2 separate regions of the Homo sapiens genome follow, and region 2 is linked to region 1. Evidence: fine-mapped QTL for protein levels in blood plasma. Region 1 holds a variant in brackets. A gene starts in the other region. All regions are shown on their reverse strands.

Region 1 (10,348 bases):
AACCAGAAAACAAAAGAATATATTGGAATTATTATATAATCTCTAAATGAGATAGCTGCCAGGATTTAATAAATTTCTGTAGACTTACCACGGAGGGTTCAAGAGTGGAGCCAATGTTGTGAGAAGTTTATTTAGCTCTAACCAGACAGCAGGGAGAGTTGTGGTTGAGTGCCTGTCCCAATCCTAGGACCCTGAGAAACAAAAATATAATTAACAAAAGAAATAGTATTAACATCACCAGCAGATTTTGAGTTCTGTGTGTGGGTCATAATTCCTATCATACTTTAGACTTCATATATTCAATTATCTCCAGAGCTACTACCACCATAAAAAAGAAAGTCTTGGTACAACTCTTGCGATTCCGCCTGCCATTATCTTGCTAACCAAAGGAATGTTTAAACTATTCACTTTTGATTCTGACCAAAAAAATATTATGGAAAATGACTGGTTTTCAGTGTGTTAAATCTGAACCTTGGAATGGCTAATTATTATATTGTTTCCACAATTTGGGCAACTGTGCTGAGGTGGATATATTTTCACATATTTTTTTTGTGTACTCCAAAAACATTATAATGGTATTTTAGCTAAAGAAAGAAATCAATCTGGACATTTACCAAAAATATCCCATTTTTACCAGAAACCCCCTAAACTCTCTGACTTTTTGTCATGATTACCTATGTAAATTCCAAGAAGAAAGGATTCCAAACTAAACAATTTTATTTACTATAGGACTTTTCAGATATGTATTGTATATCTCCAAGAAGATGAAGAACACAGCATTATTTGCACATTGTGCAGGATTAGTGTTTTATAGATCGTATTTTGGCAAATTCAGCTCTAGTTATAGTTTAGGAGCATCAAAAAATGTGTTGGTCTGCTCTGAAATTTTCTTTATAACGTGTGCTATGGAGCATGCAATGGGAGCACAGGTCTGGAAATGACAGTGATATCACTTATTTGTCAAAGCAGTAAGGTTTTGCCCTGCTAAATACAGAGAAAGAGACAAATGACTTATAAGGTTCATACTTTCTGGAATAACATTGACTCTGCCCATTTCAGACAACTCTTAACATTTTACTGTTCTATTTTACTATTTATCGATTTCAAGGGAAAAAAGAAGACAGCTGGCAAGGAAAAGAAATATTGTTGTGGGCAAACATTATAAAATGACATAATGGATATTAAAACACTATAAATACTTTGTTCTTATTTTCTACTGCACTAATGCCAAGGTGGTTTTATGTCATTTCAAATATCAACATTTCCTACACTATATTCAGTGGATGTTAATAAATGTGGCTCAAAAGAAAAGCAACTCCATTGTCAAGTAAGTTGAGGAAACAGTGTTAGAAAAGTTATAGCAGGTTTTGTTACCACATGAGTGTTTTGAGTAATAATGATAACAAGCATCTGTGAAGCACTATATTATCGGGTCTACTTCTAAGTTCTCTCCATGCATTATCTCATGTTATTCTTGGAACAACTCTATGGTGTGATACTATTATAACAGTTTATAAATGGGAAAATGGAGGCACAGACAAATTACCTAACAGGCTCAGCTACTCAGTTAGCAAGTGGCAGAGCCAGGCTCCTTTGTCTGGTAGTCTGATCCAGAGCCCAAGCACGTAACCATTATATCATACGCTCGAGCACTGGGGACTCATGACACATGCAAATATTGTCATTTATCACAACTATCTAAGAGAGTAGGCAACGTTTTGTTTCCTGGGCTTAATTTACAACAGAACATCTTCTTTCAGGAACATCTATCAATATCTCTCAAAATTGGCATTTCTCAGAATACAGAACAAGAAAGACCAAATCGCTTTTATAGCCCATGTCCAGCATTCAGAACAATCAGAATCCATTGAAATAATCACAGTTGAAAAATCTAAAGGACTTTAGAGTCTAGTCTTCCACCAAATAGGACTATGCCTATCTGAGAAACTTTTAAAATTAATTACGGAAAGAACACTAGGCTTTGTGCCTCGACACAGCTAAGTGGAAACGCCTATTGTAAAACTCCCTAGGTTTGTGACCTTGGGCATATTGTTTGACTCCACTGAATCTCAGATTCCTCAAATGTGAAATGGGGGTAAGATCTGACCCATAGTATTTTGTGAAGTTTAAATTAGATGATAAAGCAAAGGAGAGAAATGTGGTCCCCGGTACTTAAGAATTCAGCAAAAACCCCACTTCCCTTTTCATTTTCCTATTTGTAACAACCTCCAGAAAAATTTTCTAAAATTGCCCAAGTATACCTATTAGGCCTTGTTTTTCAAAACAATACTAATAAAGTTGAAATCACAAACTGTACATAAAAAATTTTGATTAATCACAAATAGTAGCACTATTCCATTTATTCAGAGAAAGACAGTCTGTAAATTTTTTTAGTATTAAAGCACACACACAGAGTATATTTTTATTTTAGAGATTATTGCTGAAGAAAACTCTTAGTTATAAAACCCCAACACCTTTTCACCCAAACCCATGGGACACCCTGACACAGTGCATGCTCATTTCATCATGGAGGCAGTTGATGTTAAAAATCTGTTTCAGTAACTGTCTTTTAAAAATTGTCATCCCTTAGAAAGCTGAGTAGTACTGTGGGTACTATTGCACAATGGTTTTCATTACCTTATGTGTCTCTAAAATGACTCAATAAGTTCAAA[C/A]AAGACAGTATTGATCGACAGAGGATAAACACCATTTTATCTTATTCACAGAAACAGTAACCAGGCTCCTGCAAAGTGCAGCTCTCACAATCCAACTGCCCCCAGGAAAAGCATCTGGAAAAGGAGCAGCACTCTTGCGGTGACATTCTGTATTAGAAATCTGTATCCCATCTGCTCCTTGGCCTGATCCTGTAAAATCTGGAGAGTTATTAACAAATGTTTGCTGCTGATTCAACCAGGAAAGCTAGTTCATCATTTCATTTCATCAAATCTACTCCAACTAGGTTATCAGTTTTTTGTTGTTGATGATGGTTTGTTTGTATGAGATGGAGTATCGTTCTGTTGCCTAGGCTGGAGTGGTGGTGCAATCTCAGCTCATCACAACCTCCACCTCCTGGATTCAAGTGATTCTTGTGCCTCAGCCTCCCGAGTAGCTGGGATTACAGGCACACGCCACCATGCCAGGCTAACTTTTGTATTTTTAGTAGAGACGGGGTTTCATTATGTTGGCTAGGCTGGTCTCGAACTCCTGAACTCATGATCTGCCTGCCTCAGCCTCCCAAAGTGCTGGGATTACAGGCATGAGCCAACATGCCCGGTCTAGGTTATCAGTTTTAATGACCACTTAGAATTTTTAATTTAATAAACTAAAATTTTGTATTGAATATTTTTGATTGATGCAATCCAAAAATTAAAACATGCCCTTTTGTAAAAAATCATCGTCCTGTATAAGATATGCTGGTATCTTGAGAGCTCTAATTTGATTTCTTTTAAACATATGTAAGCTAAGATTTTTATCCTATATAGATTTATATGTGGAGTTTTATGCATATATGTATTAACAATCACATGGAGAACATTTTCCAAGTTTGTTTATTCAATAGGAATTGGTCCCTGGTAATATTAAGAGAGAAATACTAATAAGGATGTAAGATAAATCCTTCTGATTTGCACAGTTAAGTGCAATGCTCTGCTCCAGATGTAATATGACTAAAGAGAATTAACACATGACAATTTAGGCAGACAGAATGTCTAAGTGAGCAGATTGGTTTATAATTCTATAAAATCCCACCTGCAGTAGTGATGTAGTGATGCCTTCCCTCCCTCCAGCAATTAAAAACTATTCATTGTTTTAGGATGCCCAATTGATTTAAAAATCACTAGGTTTAAGTAGTAGAACTAACTACAATATCTTATTTCCATAGGATATTCTAGTTTATAAAGCTTTTCATATACAAGAACTTATAAAGATTTTTAATGGCAAATTTCTTATAGTTGATGTCAATTCAGTATGCCTAGTTTCTTCAAGGTAACTGTGTCAATATTCACCATTCCAATTGTACAAATCTGATTAACTGAAAGATGCTCCCACCTATCGTTTATAAGCCCAACTCTGTTTATGTAACACAATGATGTCCAACTTCACTGGACATTAACTAATGTACCTATCAGTTAAGAGGCTAGATGAGGCCGGGCGCAGTGGCTCACGCCTGTAATTCGAACACTATGGGAGGCCAAGGCAGGCAGATCACCTGAGGTCAGGAGTTCAAGACCAGTCTGGCTAACATGACGAAACCCCACCTCCAGAAAAATACAAAAATTAGCCAGGCATGGTGGTGGGTACCTGTAATCCCAGCTACCCAGGAGGCTGAGGCGGGAAAATCACTTGAACCCAGGAGGCGAAGGTTGCAGTGAGCCGAGATCGCACCATTGCACTCCAGCCTAGGCGACAGAGTGAGACTCCACCTCAAAAAAAAAAAAAGAGTCTAAATGAAAACAGTGAAGAGAGGACATAAAGGTCCATGTGGAAGGTGAGAGAAGAACCACCCCCATATGGGACCTAGAAGAAAACAGCCCTAAAAAGATGTAATTATAACTCAGTCCAGATGCTGTGACTAACACAGTGAAAGATATAAAGGAACAGAGGTTTATAAAATCTCCTACCTGCCTGGCAGGGGACTGGCAAAACATTGTGCACAAATGAAATTTTTTATTTCTATTGATTTTAGTATTCTATCCAGCTCTTCTACTGGGATTCTGCTTAGTGCTTATCTTTCCATCTGGGGCCTTCAGCATGAACTAAAATGTACTTTAAATTATTAGATGTAATTAAACTCTAATGCCTCTGATTATTTGAAATGGAAGTCAGAAATCAAAATCAGGTTCCATGGGGGGAAAACTGTGTTGGCACATATAGATGTTCATCTCAGGAATCCTCTTTCTAACCTTCTTTTCCGAAGATCCCTAAGAGTTCCTCGCCATTCATGTACTTACTACCAACTAATTATAATTGGCACCCTACGATGATGATAACAATGATGTTAATAAAATCTCTTACATCCTCTTACATCCTGCCACATGCCAGGCACATAGGTTAACTCATTTAATCCTCCATCACTCTATGGAATGGGTACTATTGCTACGCCATTTTTCCAATAAAGCAGCTACAGCTTAGGGACACAGAGAAATTTGCCCCAGGTCACACCACTAATAAGTGGTGCAGGAGTGAGTCCGGGCAGTCTGGCACAGGCCACCCTGTGAACAAAGGACAAATGGAACACTGGGAAGCATCAAGGCTTAGAACTGAAGAAAACTTTTGAGATCCTTTATTTGACAGAGAAAAGCAAGTTGGGTTCCCCAGCTTGGGTTTTTGTTAGAATGAGAACCCAAGAGCAGAACCTGAACCCTCTGTGGATACTTTTCCATTATACCACTTCCCACTGTAAAGCATTTCTAATTCAGCCTGATTCTCTGTGAAAATTCTGAGAGACGAATTAATAGAATCCCTATAGTTAAACAGGAATACTCCCTTCACTCCAAGTCTCACCTTCCTTGCTGTGCCCAGACTCATGGACTGACCTAGCCAGAGACTCAGTTAAAGGAGACCCATTTTGTGACTTGGAGAGACTGACAGGCCCACATCACAGAGGAAATACATGCAGACACAGACATGGATATGGTTTAGCTTTTTGTCCCCACCCAAATCTCATCTTGAATTGTAATCCTTAGGCCTGAAGGAAAGAATCTGGTGAGAAGTGATAGGATTATGGGGGTGGTTTCCCCCATGCTGTTTTCATGATAATGAGTGAATTCTCATGAGACCTGGTGGTTTTATAAGTGTTTGACTTTTCCTTCTGTACACACTACTTCTCTCCCCTGCTGTCACATAAGAAGGCCTAAGCTTGCTTCCCCTTTGCCTTCCACCATGATTGTGAGTTTCCTGAGGCCTCCCCAGCCATGCAGAACTGTGAGTCAATTAAACCTCTTTCTTTATAAATTACCCAGTCTCAGGTATTTCTTTGTAGCAGTATGAGAACAGACTAATACAGGCACCATGAACATAGTGACAGGATAAACCATGGAGGCATTGATAAAAATAAAAAGTAATTGTGATGAATGACTTGGTTGCAATTACACTCAAATTCTGTTAGTGTCTGAAGAGGACATAGCACCTCCTACCTGGAGGACATACCCTTTTCCCCATGGAAAAAATAATTGGGCTGCTAGGTCTGTGTCTGCTAAGGGAGTCCCATATTTAAACTGACCTAATTCAGAACTTTAAATTGAGACTCAGATGCTCCCAAATAGCAGCTCCACCAACCTGAATAGAGTTACTCATTTAGAATAAGAGTTTGTTCCCACAAGTTTTGTTAAAATACAAATTAGTTGGGATGCGGGGTGTGAGTGATAGGGACTAAAATCGCTTAACAGACTAGCCTGGCAAAGCCCTGTGGGAAGCAAGTTTTGATGATAGGGAAGAGAAGATGTCAAGAGCAGATGGTCCAGGGAGGAAGTGTCACAAGTAACTTGGGGGTGATATAAGGGACTTGAGTAGCAGGTATTTGTCTGATCTTTAAGGAATTAACTTATTAAAGAATTTTGTTAGTAAAGTCATTTGAGTATCACACTTGCAACATACTAATTCATCCATGTCTAGTTTTCTCATTAAATCACAGATATTTAACAGGTGCATTAACTTGAATTGACATCATGCAGCAAATGCCATTATATGGACCCTTAAGATATTTTAAGAGAAAAACCTATAATGCCTGGAAACTCTTAGTTTTCTCTGACATTTAAAAACAAGCCGTAAAATCAAATCCTTTCTATAATAATTTAGTAACTCAGAATTGCAAAGGATTTCCTAAAGCCCAATGATCCAAAGCTCTGACCTGTGATGTTGGCATAGCAGAGTGGGAGACAAATCATATGTTAAAGCAGAAGGCTCTGGATCTGGAATGCTTGGATACAAATTCTGGCTCTACCACTTGCTACAATTTAACTCTAGGCAAATTACTGAACTCTGTGACTATTTCCTCTTCTGTAAAGTCAGGGTTGTTTCAATAATTAGATCAGAAATTGTAAAGTGCTTAGAATAATACCAAGCAAGTGTGCATAAACTTTAGCCATTTAGCTATAACTCTCATCATATTTCTGTGTTGATTACAAAATGCTTTACTAGAGGAAAATAGATGAGAAAGAGGCCATGAGGTAAAAATGTACAGTGCTTTTTAAAGTAGAATGAGGTGGCTTAGAAATTAATTCTATCCCCATCACTGGCTTGTAGTAGAAATTTGAAACAGTCTCTCCCTGATTCTCTGGCAGTTTTTCTCTTTTTTTCTTTTTTTTCTTTTTGAGATGGAGTCTCACTCTGTCACCCAGGCTGGAGTGTAGTAGCGTGATCTCAGCTCACTGCAACCTCCGCTTCCCGGGTTCAAGCGATTCTCCTGCCTCAGCCTCCTGAGTAGCTGGGACTACAAGCATGTGCCACCACAACTGGCTAATTTTTTGTATTTTTGGTAGAGACAGGGTTTCACCTTGTTAGCCAGGATGGTCTCGATCTCCTGACCTCGTGATCCTCCTGCCTCAGCCTCCCAAAGTGGGGGGATTACAGGCGTGAGCCACGGCGCCCGGCCCTCTTTCAGTTTTTTCTAAGACAGAGACACTCCCTATCACAGACAGGGTCTTCTAAATTAGTAGAGAATGATTTGAAGGAAACTGGGTAATTATCAGAGGAAGTAAAAGAGAAATACAGATCCTCACACCAGAATGCAAATCTCTAAGACTTTATTATTTTCATCACTATGAAAGAAAAGATCAGTACTCAAAGCCACTTATGATGATGCATGTAAATTAGCATAAAATCAGAACAAATATAATATGGCTTTTAAAATAGAAACATAAGGCTATCTTTCCTTACAAGTGTCAGATTGCTTCTGTGCCACTGTAACACAGAGCTTTAGATGGATTTTTTAAAGCTTCACTCAGAGATCAAATGTACTCCATTAGTCAGTGATTGGCAGACTTGGTGAAAATTGAGTTTTCAACTTAAATTTCTCCAAATTGGTCTGAGGAAACCAGATGCAGCAACTAAGTTCAGAAGGTCAGAGTCTCAATAAGGTTAAAAAGAGAGGGAGAAACATAACACTAGAAGTATGAATGAATGAAATAGACCACACACAGCTCATCAGGTCTCTATAATATACCACGCAAATAATTGGTACCAGGACTATTGAATAATCAACTGCTTTTAAGCTGAAGAATATCTACATTGTATACCATGATTACCACTTTACCAATTCAAAAGACAACTTAAAAATTAAACATATATACAAAGACATTCTGCTTTTTTCATTAGGCCATGTCATTCTATAATTTCTAAATTCTGTCAACTCTCTTCCCCAGGAATCTTCTAGAAGTCAGGCATTTTGGGAATAGTTGAGTATCATAATTGAATAAAGATAGCACAACAGTCACCTGTAGTAGTCTGATCTTACAGGTACTAGAACAATAACAGCACAAAAACAGAGTTACGTGTATGTATTATTCAGTGTTCTCTAGAAGAAAACATAGTATATGTATATATAGGCAATACATTTATAAATGCATAAAACAAATATAAATTTGTGTAAGTATGCATATAAATATGTAAGTCTACACATATAAATACAAATAAAGAGATTTATTCTATGGGATTGGCTCATGCAATTATAGAAGCAGGAGTCCCAAGATTTGCAGTAAGCAAGCTGGAGATTCAGGGGAGCCCATGCATAGTTCCAGCCCAAGTCCAAAGGCTTGAGACCCAGAAAAGCAATAGTGTAAGTTCCAGTCCAGAAGCCATCAGGTTAGAGACGCAAGAAGAGCCAATATTTCAAGTCCGAAGATCAGGAAAGGCCAATGTCCCTGCTCTGTCATGCAGGCCCAGCTCCCTCTTACTCAGCTTTTATGTTTTATTCAGGTTTTCAATTGATTGGATGAGGCCCACTCACATTGCATCTGCTGTTAAAATTTTCCAAGATCTTTTTGGGGTTAAAAACCTATCATTCATCTCTCAATCTTCAGTGTTGACAAGGACAGAGCACTTATGAGTATTCCTGTTTCTGAGTTTCTGATAAGCTTGTCCAAGTGGAGCACAGGCTGGACAATTTATAAGACAGTATTGAAGTCAGAGCAATTACAAAAGGAAAGGGGTAGGTTTCTTGTGTGATGTGCTGCAAACACTGACCTCTCAGAATTTATTCGGCCCTGTGTGTATATACGTATTCATGTCTGCACATATGTGCTAGTTCACTTATACATCTATACATACACACAATCACATATACCCAAGATCTGATGGAATAGACATGAATTTGGCTTAGCCAGGGAAATTATAGAAAGAATAATGGGAATCCTAGGCATGTGGGAAATGGGAAACAAGGACAAAGGCGCCTAGGTAAAATAAAAAGCAACTGGTGTGCCTAGGAGACCTGATGGACTTGAGCATGGAATAGCTCCAGACTTGTATTGAAAGAAAATCAGGAAAGTCAAGTTACGACCAGGTCATGGCAGGCACTGAATGTCAGGTTAAGGGGCTGAACTGTTTCTTTCTAGTTAGTGATGGGTCCAGTGAAGGATTTGGGGCAGGAGAATACTAGAAGGAATATTTTAGGGAGATTGATCTTCCAGTGGTGTGCAGAACAGATATGCCATGCCTAGAGGGTAGTAAGCAGTGACATTTCTTTCACTCTACACTTTAGCTGAGCTCAGGGTAAGTCCAGTAATGGAAGATGGGGTGGGAAATAGAGCTAGGAGTGTAGAGAGGGCAACAGGTAAGGATACATATGTACCAAAAGCAGAAAACAAGTTAAGATCCAGGCTTCATGAGGTGCCTATATTGAAGATTGCTCTGGATAAAGAGACTGTTAGGACTTCAGAGTTAGAATTCATAGCAATTCACAGAACTGCTCAGGCTCTTCATTATTCACCTGACTCAACTCTCCTACATCTGCTCCTTTCTCCTAAGAGATTTCCTTGCTCTCTGTCCTTTCTCTACCCCACAGCTTTTGCTTCCTTTCCGTACATAGAACCACACAACAAGTACTAGTTTTATGCATGCAGTGGTCATATAAATATCTTATTGGCGAGTCCTCATCAAAACTGAGTTGAAACAAACCATTTGAGCCAGAATTTAGTAAGAGTCAGATTTTTTAAGGTACTTCAAGGATTTTATTTATAAATACAACTAGGAAAACATTTACTCATTAGAAATGATGAAACCATAGACAAAACAATTATTAGAGAAAATTTTGAATTATTCTTTTCTCCTGCTGTCTAATTTCTACCTTTCTCATGTAGTCTTTTTCTTTTTAATTAGATTTTTTATGTGAGTATATGGTCCATGTATTTGGCTGGTG
Region 2 (10,734 bases), not on the chromosome of region 1:
CAGAATGGGAGAAGATATTTGCAAATTATGCGTCCAATAAAGGCTTAATATCTAGAATCTATAGGGAACATAAAGAAATCAACAAGCAAGAAACAAATAACCTCATTAAAAAATGGGCAAAGTATATGAGCAGATACTCCTCAAAAGAAGACAGACAAGCAGCCAAGAAACATAAAAAAATTCTCAGCATCTCTAATCATCAGAAAAATGCAAATCAAAATCACAATGAGATACCATTTTACACCAGTCAGAATGGCTATTAGTAAAAGGTCAAAAAAAACAACAGATGTTGGACAGTCTGTGAAGAAAAGAGAATGTTTATACATTGTTGGTGGGAATGTAAATTAGTACAGCCACTGTGGAAAGCAGTCTGGAGATTTCTCAGAGAACTTAAAATAGAGCTACCATTCGACTCAGCAATACCATTACTGGCATATACCCAAGGGAAAATAAATCATTCTACCAAAAGGACACATACACCCATATGTTCACTGATGCAGTATTCACAATAGCAAATACATGGAATCAATCCAGGTGCTCTTCAGTGGTAGATTGGATAAAGAAAATGTGGTACATATATACCATGGAATGCTGTACAGCCATAAAAAAGAATGGAATAATGTCCTTTGCAGCAACATGGAGATGGTTGGAGGCCATAATCCTAAGTGAGTTAATGCAAGAGTAGAAAACCAAATACTGCATGTTCTTACTTAGAAGTGGAAGCTAAACATTGAGCACACATGGACATAAATATGAGAACAACAGACACTGCAGGCTACTACAGTGGGGAGGGAGGGAAGGGAGCATGGATTGAAAAACTACCTATTGAGTACTGTGATCACTACCTAGGTGACAGGATTTGTACCCCAAACCTCAGCGTCATTCCATATCCCCAGGTAACAAAGCTGCATATGTGCCTTGGTATCTAATATAAAAGTTGAAATTATAAAAAAGAATAAGCCTCTTAAGAAAAAAGTCCCCCTTTACATTCCATCTCGCCTAAACCATGGTCCTCAAACAATGTTGTGCATCAAATCACCTGGAAGGCTTGTTACAGCACAAATAGCTGTAGAGTTTCTGATTCAGTAGGACTAGGATGACGCCTGGAACTTGCATTTCTAATGACTTCCTAGGTGATGCTGATGCTGCTGGTTCAAAGTCACACTTTAAGAACCAATGGCCCTTATGTGTCTTCTTTAGTTTCACCGGGACTTGACCTGATTAACAATATTAGATTGCCTCTTCATTCTAATCACATTAGTTGCAGGATGCTAATTATTTTAATAAATGCTAAATTTGCACATAAATATGCAGATAAAAGGTCATGCTTTAATCTTTACATTTTGAATGAGTTATAAGCCATAATTAAGATCCCTTTGACCACATTTTCATAATAATTTTGTTAACTATGAAACTGAATTATTTAGAACTTGCTTATCTTATTGGCAGATTTTTCACATCCTAATAGCGATTTTAATATGTCATTTCATCTGTCACTACATTGATGCAAAAAGTAAGCATTTGTGAACTTTGAGAATAAACCTATGTACTATAAAATTCTATGTCAATTTTAACAGCATATGACCCTTCGATTAAATTAAAACCCTTTATTTTTTATATACTATATCATTACAGCTGGGAAAGACCTAATGGCTTATATTTTTGGTTCTGGTTTCATTCCCAGTTTGCCTAATAGGCTGCTATGGAGCCTGCATCTTTGGTTTCTAGTTGCTTTGTCAGTAGTAAAAATAGATTTGATCCATATCCTCTCTCCTGCTCCTTTTGGTGACCCACAGCATGGGAATTTCATATAACAGGTGACCGTGCTTTGTGTTCACTCTGTGGCCACAGGTCAAAACTAAGTCACAGATTACATACTGAACCCCTTAGTATTCTTCTTCATCTTAGACGATTTTCCTTCTCCAAAATAAACTCAAAGGGTATTTACCCACTGTAAGATATGATTTTACACCCTATTCTTTCTACCATATAAAGCCTCATGAAGCATGGGATAAGGCAATTTTCAAAAAGATCTGATAATATAAATATACATTAGTTATGAAAGACACTTCTCTTGGGGGTGTAGAAAATAAACTGGACTAATTGCAAATCTAGCAAAGAAATACTCAAAGGGATTAACTTACTTGAAGAAAAATGGCAATGGCCTTCCAGAAGCTCAAGAATCCCTTTGTCCAATCTCTCGTACATTAGGGAATTGTCCTTATATAATTGACATTAAACAAAAGTCTTTTGGAAAAATGTGTTGGTAAAGTATATTGAGAAGATGAGGGTGGGTAATATTAATGAAATACAGTTTATCATTGAACAATATGGGGGTTAGAGGTACCGACCCACCGTGTAAAACTTTCGACTCCCCCAAAACTTAACAACTAGTAGCCTACTGTTGACTGGAAGCCTTACCAATAACAAAATCAACTTACACATATTTTATATGTTACATGTGTTATATACTGTATTCTTACAATAAAGCAAGCTAGAAAAAAGAAAATGTTATTAAGAAAATCATAAGGAAGGGAAAATATATTTACTATTCATAAAGTGTAAGTGGTACATCAAAACTCTTCATCCTTGTCATCTTCACATTGTGTAGAATAAGGAGCAGGAGGAAGAGGAGAAGTTGGTTTTGCTGTCTCAGGGGTGGAAGAATCTAAAGAAAATCTACATATAAGTGGACCCTTTTTTTTGTTCAAAGGTCAACTGTGCCTACTATATGCCAGGTGTTTAAGCGATGATATATCCTTTGTCCTCACAGTCACTCCTCAGGGTAGGGATGAATATTTCTCTTTGTCTTGGTTTGAGTTTCACCAAAAGGAGACTGAGAGGCAAGCATTCAAATGCAAGGAGTTTATTTGGGAGGTGAAGGGAGCACCAATGAGGAGTAGGGAAGTCTGATTAGAAGGGAAGGCAGCCAGGCCGGGCACGGTGGCTCATGCCTGTAATCCCAGCACTTTGGGAGGCTGAGTTGGGCGGATCACGAGGTCAAGAGATCAAGACCATCCTGGCCAACATGGTGAAACCCCATCTCTACTAAAAACACAAAAATCAGCTGGGTGTGGTGGCATGAGCCTGTAATCCCAGCTACTCGGGAGGCTGAGGCAGGAGAATTGCTTGAACCTGGGAGGCGGAGGTTGCAGTGAGCCGAGATTGCGCCACTTCACTCCAGTCTGGTGACGGCGTGAGACTCCATCTCAAAACAAAAAACAAACAAAAAAGGAACATAGCCAACACAGCATAGATTATCAACCAGCTCACACTGTGGATAACTGAAACCTGCAATGTAGAACATAATCCTAGGAGTAATCCCACCAGAAGAATGAACTTTCTTGGGCTTGTGATTGAGGGCTGTTCCACAGGGTATGGAACTATACTATTTGGCATGCTATGTTTATGAAAAAAGCAGGCTCCAAGTTCAAGAGCAAGTTCTCCTACAGGTGTAGGTGGTTGGAATGTAGATAGTGAACAACTGGCAAGCAGCTTTAAGTGGCGGCTCCTAGATTGAAACTCAGGTCTAACTGTAGTTAAAATCATTGCTTTCTCAAGCATATCCTACTAATGTGAATCTTCCCCAGGTGTTCCATGATTGAGTGAAATTATAGACTGAGACCACAGGTCTTTTGGAATAGCACTTCCCTATACCCTCTCCAGGGCAAGATAAGACTCTAAGAATTAGTGGTAGGCCATGTGCAGTGGCTCACACCTGCAATCCCAGCACTCTGGGAGGCCGAGGTGGTTGGATCACTTGAGGTCAGGAGTTTGAGACCAGCCTGGCCAATATAGTGAAACCCCATCTTTACTAAATAAAAATACAAAAATTAGCCAGGCGTGGTGGACATGCCTGTAGTCCCAGTTACTTGGGAGGCTGAGGCAGAATAATCTCTTGAACCTGGGAGGTAGAGGCTGCAATGAGCCGAGATCACACCACTGCACTCCAGCCTGGGAGACAGAGAAAGACTCCATCTCAAAAAGAAAAAAAAAAAGAATTAATGGTAAACCTAAATGCCCATTAAGAGACAAATGGATAAGGGAAATGTATAGATATACACACAATGAAATATTATTCAGCCTTATAAGAGAAGGGAATCCTGTCATTTGCAGTAGAACCCAGAGAACATTATGCTAAGTGAAATAAGCCAGGCACAAAAGGGAAATTATTGCATTATTTCACTTATAGGTGGGATTTTGTTTTAAAAAAGACTTCAAATGCACAGAGCTAGAGAATGAAACAGTGAATACCACTAGTGGGAAGCAGGGAAGAGGAAAAGGGGTGATATAGGTCAAAGGATACAAAATAGTAGACACGTAGGATACATAAATCTACAACAGGGTCCCTAACCTTTTCGGCACCAGGGACAAGTTTTGTGGAATACAATTTTTCCATGGGCAGTGGGGGTAGGTGGATGGTTTTGGAATGAAACTGTTCCACCTCAGATCATCAGGCATTAGATTCTCATAAGGAGTGGCGCAACCTAGATCCCTCGCATGTGCAGTTCACAATAGGAGGCGGAGCTCAGTCTGTAAAGCTTGCTCACCGGCTGCTCACCTCCTGCTGTGCAGCTTGGTTCCTAACAGGCCACGGACCAGTACCAGTCCATGCTGGGGAGTTTGGGACCCCTGGTCTAGAGAGCAAACGTGCAAAATGAGGACTAAAGTTAATAAAATTGTATCATATTAGGAATTTTTGTTAAATAAGTTGATTTTAGCTGTTCTTGTCATACACACAAAAAAGTAATTACGGGTGAGATGATACATATATTATATTGGCCTCCCTACTGTAACCATTTTTCTGTGTATATGTATCTCATAATATCATGTTGTAAACCTCAAATATACAGAATGAATAAAACAATTAGCTGTCAATTTGGCCTTAATGTTCCATGTTAAAGCCAAATGTCTATGTTTGTAATCAGCTAAATTTTATATTGTGCAGAAGCCCTGAATTTCACGGATGCCCCATATTTCATGGATGCCCCGTTCAGTTCATAAGCTCTTGTTTACATGATTTGTGCATGATCCAAATGTGGAAAGAAAATGAGTGGGCAGCCTATTCTGGGTATCAAGCAAAGAGCACAGGCACAGACCATGTGCAATAAGCAGCCTTAGGCAAAACTGAACCAAGAGTGGTTTCATACAGGTATTCCTCTAAGTCTTTAATTTTTTACTTATTCCTTTCCCCTTTTTAATGTGATAGACACCTAATCACCTTCTGCTGCCTTCCCAACCTCAACTTTGGTGTTCTTTGGCAGATAGTGACTTCGGTGTTCTTTGGCAGATAGCCTACAAATGAAATTTCAAAGGCTAAGCATATAATGTTTGCTCACTTGATGTAAGCAACAGAGAACTAAATCTGAACTTTGGCAAAAGTCTATTAATAATTGACAAATAACAGAACAGTGAGGATGTAGAAAGCAATACATTAAAAAAAAAAAAACAACGAACTCCATCTGGGATAGCAATAACCTGTGAAAATGCTCCCCCGGCTAATTTGTATCAATGATTATGAACAACATGCTAAATCAGTACTTCCAAAGTCTATATATGACTATTACAGGTCTGGGGCAAATGATGAAGAAACTTTGGCTGATAATATTGCAGCATTTTCCAGGTAAGAAAATTTATTTTTTAAAATCATGTTTTAAAATTACACAAAGACCGTACCAAAATAAGATCTCCTAGTTTTACGTTGGTGGTGTGTAATTATTTGTTCAGATTTGTGCTTAGTAGAGAGGGAAAAGTTCTTGGGGCTGTAAGAAATCTTGGGCCTTTAAATTGTTAAAAAATATTCCAAGCCTGTGAATCTTGAGGAACTGACTGCAAAAGCCAAACCTATGTTACTTCACTTGGAAATATGACAACAATTAATTTAACTACATGTAAAAATAGCGATAAATTCGGATGACTTTTCTTTTTCTTAGTATGACAGTAAATGCTTATGTTCATGGTGTAGGAAACAGCATTAAATGCCAGATAACCATCTTATCCGGATGAACCAGACTGGATTGTTGGCTCAAATGTTTTCTTCCTGCTGGCTTTTCGTGTTATCATTCATTTTGATTACTGTTGTCTAAACTTTCACTTTAGATTTCAATTTGTCTATGCAGCATTAATCTTTCAACTTTGCTGTTTCATCTCTCCTTCAAAGCACTTCATCTCTCTTCCCAAATTAGTTTTCCTTTGACTTTCATATTTCAAAGCACAAGATGGTGGGTGACATGGTTTATGTTTTCTGTTTGTAATAAAAACAAGAAATAAAATCATTTCAAAGGGTTTTTTTTTATAGCAGTTACAAAAATGGTTTATTTGCTGGAGCAAGAGAGGAGTGCCTTCACTACACTACACTCAGTCTCATCCATCTAACATTATGGCTGTTAGTAAAGGCAATCGGTATTGTGGGTACTCATTGATGGTGATAAAGACAAAAAGGCAGAAAATATGCAGGGGGAGAGAATTAGCCTTCCTCCCTGATTTCTTCTTTAGTCTACAACAAAATCACTCAAAATCAGTTTTCCATATTTAAATTAGGAGAAATAAAATTATCCTGGCCAAGGTGGTCTCTGGTAGGCAGCACTGATTCACCCACAAATCCATGTAGAAGACTGAAAATGGCAATGGGGTGAAGGATACGGCCTCTCCCCAACCCTTTCAAGCCTTGACTTTGTCTCAGGTTTTGCCTGGAACCCAAATGAGCTCAACAAATGCCAGGGAAGTCATGGGAAGGGAAGTTGACTGAGAGTAGAGGGGCTTAAAATTCTGCATCATTATTTACTATTTTGGACTCATTTAAAAGTTTCTGCTCTTGGAAGATGCCCCTTCTTGGGCCGATATTAACTTTGTCCACCAAAATTTGCCTATGAGTGGTCTCTTGAAAACACTTTAACCCAAATAGGTTATTACAACCAAGGAAATTTCAGACCCTTGACAGATTTATAGAGTTAGTGTCTCAGCATTGCTAGACCTCCAATGCTCAAGTGATTATTTATTTCATTTGTATACAGCTTTCCTTACTTCTTAATTCCCTTTGTCGCATGCTAGCTAATTAACTAGAGCTAATTAGGAGTCTCCATGAGCTACACTGTGTACTACATGCTGAGGACAAAGCAGTGAGCCAGACAAAGTTCCTGTCCCTAGGAACTTACATTCCCCTGGATGCATATCAGCCTCCATAATGCTGTTGGGTTGAATTGATGCAAAATGGGCCCAAAATAGTTGGCCAAGTGGAGGTCTCAGAGAGGATGCAAAGGGGCGCCCCAAAGCAGATGGATCACCTATGCAACCCTTTAAAATGTAGAAACTTTGGGAGACATAGAAGGCTTGGTGACTTCTAAGTTATGAACTGGAAAAGTGCCTCATGCCTTATGTGAATTACATGGTATTCAAGTGAGTATTCCCATCCTATGTGTGTACCGAGTAACTTAGGGATAGGACACAGATAATGAAAATGAATTTGCAGTGTCACCTTTTCCATGAACCTTGATCATTCTCTTTTGTTCAGCTTTAAATTAAAAAAAAAAATCAATCAACTTTCTTTGGAGGACAGCTGATGCTATTTTATTATCAACTAGTTGAGTTTTTATTGCAATACATTTTGCAATGTGTCCTCTTTTGCTGTATGACTCGCTAGGTGAACCTTGATTCCTCACACTGCATCATGTAGCTGGTCACGTGAAACTAAGAATAGAAATTCTGCCAGGGTTGTGGAGACTTTGGGTTGATGGCATGAAGGAAATCAACCTGAAATTTCACATTCTGATTCTAATGAAAAGTGCAAAACAATCAAACCTCAGATAACCCATTGTGATACAAAGCCAGAGTATTTCAAACACATTTATGAAATTTATACACCTCCCCATCTCGCAAGTACAACAAAAGGTCATTCACCGTGACAGCTTTTATTTCTCTGTACTCAGCTCTGATAATCACATTTTGGAGTTCTGGGGACATGGACCACTCATGTGACCCAGCAGTTGCTTGGAGATATTTTTGGGTAAGACTTCAGACTAATATTACTGTGGCAGTAGAAAAAAATGTTTAAAAGGACAAGTAAATGGAACCACCCAGAACAAAATTTCTTACGGTGGTTATAACAAAACAGGGTAAATGTCAACTTGCTACATTTTGCATGGCTGGAATTGATTGGGATTAATTCAACGAAGAACAGTAATTTGTTTCTCTTACACATTTATTCAAAGTAGCCTTCTCAACTATGGTCTTCACGTTGTTGTAGCTTTTTTTTCTGAAATTATCAATGATGGAAGATGATTAAACAATTTCGACACTTAGAAGCCCTCATGATTTCAGAAAAGGAAACTCTTTTCTGCTGCGTTACCTATTGAGACTGAAGATGGCATCATTTTCTTTTAAATAACAGATGGGTAAAAGTGATGTCATTCTTTCACTTTAATATTTGAGAAGTGATATGAAGTTACCAGTGACATTGTGTTCTCATAGGCATAAATGTCACAAAATAATTTATCTAGTATCCACAATAGGTGAATAAGGTGTTTTTGCTTTATATATTTTAACTGTTTAGAGTAAAAAATTAATGTGGAGAAAATTGGAATGCAGTATTATAGGATTACACAACTTACAAAACATGAATCCACTATGTCCAGTTAGTGTGATTCAGAAACAGCATGCAGTTATAAAGCTGGGTGAGGCATGGGTGTCTTCCTTCAACAGGGCAGCTACTTTGTGAGGAGTGTATATATCATTTGATTTTTTTATAAGTTAAATTTGAGGCCCCTGTTAGATGTGAGGGTGGGCCAAAATTCCTGTGAACAGATTCTCCCCGTTACCCCGCTTCCTTTACTCTGGCATCTCATTTTCTATCCTTTGAAAACGGTTTATTATTCAATTGGTTCAACTGTTTGCCAGTTGAACCAATTCTTTTTCCAAAGTGGAGGCCCAGGAAAGCACAGTCCGAGAATATAGTGAGGTGCTATTTTATGTATGATTGTGGGAAATTTACTTAAATTTGGAGTGGGGTTGGGCAAGGCTTGGAAAGCTAGTGAGCTATCTGACATAGTTGTTACTACTATTTGAAAAATATCAAAACATGGAGGACTCTTTAGATAACATGCCTGTTCCCATTCCATTGATTTTATCTAATTTTACGTAGCAATTACGTTTTGTGCATTGGTTGACAAGCCTCTGTATTATCCTCAGAACAGAAAATACTGTTTAAGGGAAATTAAGAGCCCGCAGTTACTAAAGTGACTGCGCCACCAAGTGGACAAGTGTAAAGCCACTGTCTGGAGATGGAAGGATTCAGCTTTGCTTTATAAATGGGAATTTGACCTTTAAAAATGTCCCTTTTGGCACGCACGCGCGCGCGCGCGCGCGAACACACACACACACACACACACACACACACACACACACACACACGGCTGCTGCCCTGCAGATTTGCTTGTTCTTGTCATAAAGCTTTCATTGTTTCTCTAGCTCTAAGTAAATATTAATGCCTTCCAAGGCTGGCATGCCAATGGCTGCTATTAAGATCGTTTTCTCTCATTCTAATAACACACTTAGAGATGATTGGTAATAAAAACTCTCTTCAAGGCTTCTGCTTCTCCCCCTTCAAAATGGAGATCAAAGAATCATGCTGTGAGGGTCCGTCAAGAAGAAAAGACTTTCAGCAACAGAGCATGTGGTGTGGCATAAAATAATGACAATTATAATGTTCAAAGGAATAGCATAGAAATCACACAGTAAAACTTCTTTATTATGCTTTTCAGGGACTGGATGTTTTTACTTTATTATGTGAGGAAGGGTTAGATTACAGACCCTTAGCTATTCCACAAAGCAATAGAAGGCAGAATTTCTTCTTCCGCTACAGGAAGCACGCTTCGATTAAGGGCTTTTTCTTTTTCTTCTTTTTTTTTCTTTAAGTTACTGCATTACTATATCATACTTCACTATATTTACTAAAAAGTCATGCTGTTTCTGGAAGTAGAGTTACATCTAGGAAATACTAGGTGAATGCTGGTTAGATATGCATGTGTGCCTAAACAACACGTTTATTATACTCATGCATACTAGAAATAGGGCTGTATTTTCTTCAATTTTAATCAGTACTAATGAGAATAATAAATCAAAACAAATAGGAGAGATATATTTTGCCAGGAGGAAAGAGAACTAGTTCTTCTGTAAATTTTACTGGTGAATTTTTGGTTGCTGGTTTATTGGTAATTTTCATTCCAACACAGAAGAATCACAGAAACATTCATTTAAAATAATTTTCCGGAGTCAAAAACTTTTTAACACCCAAATTTCAGTTTTTGTCAAATAACATTTTTGAGAAAAGTGTTAAATTAAACTAATAAAAAACCTTCCCTCATCATTAGACTTTAATGAATATGGCATATAACTAAATAATTTTGAAGAAACCAAATTATAATTTTAAAAGTAATTGCCTGAAGCTGCTGTTTATCACATAAAAAGAAGACAAACTAGACATAGCATATCTTCTTAAACTCTAATCTAAACTCTATGCATTTGTATACCATCTTGATTTTCAAGATTGGGGAAGTGAAACGAAAACTATGTTCACACAAGAACCTGTACGTGAATGTTTGTAGTGGCTTTATTTAGAATTTCCCCCCAAACTGTAAGTATTCAAAATGTCTTTTAGCTTGGGAATGACTGGACAAATGATAGTACCCCTGTATGATGGAATATTATTCATCAACCAAAAGGAACAAACTATTGACACGT

Which allele goes with the higher level. Alleles are on the strand shown, and positions count from the first base shown. The strength of an association depends on the size of the effect and on how common the allele is.
For the plasma level of the protein whose gene starts at base 5,451 in region 2, allele C in region 1 goes with a lower level than allele A (weak association).

What was found. PIP is the posterior inclusion probability: the model's chance that the variant is causal. Protein levels are from antibody-based Olink assays in UK Biobank. Linkage for the fine-mapping came from a reference panel and not from the study's own genotypes, which makes the PIPs less certain.
Region 2: HAO1 starts here. The variant in region 1 is fine-mapped to the plasma level of the HAO1 protein (UK Biobank, PIP above 0.99).

The regions. Positions count from the first base shown.
Region 1 is chr10:50,875,081-50,885,428 of GRCh38, reverse strand. The region is part of intron 1 of A1CF (APOBEC1 complementation factor); the gene reads left to right. Among named protein-coding and RNA genes, the nearest start is that of A1CF, 5.4 kb to the left of the region's middle. The variant C/A (reference allele first, on the strand shown) is at 2,673.
Region 2 is chr20:7,935,175-7,945,908 of GRCh38, reverse strand. It overlaps HAO1 (hydroxyacid oxidase 1), which reads left to right and starts at 5,451. Exons shown (of 8, transcript NM_017545.3): 1 at 5,451-5,623. The coding sequence starts at 5,487. RefSeq lists an enhancer at 10,485-10,534.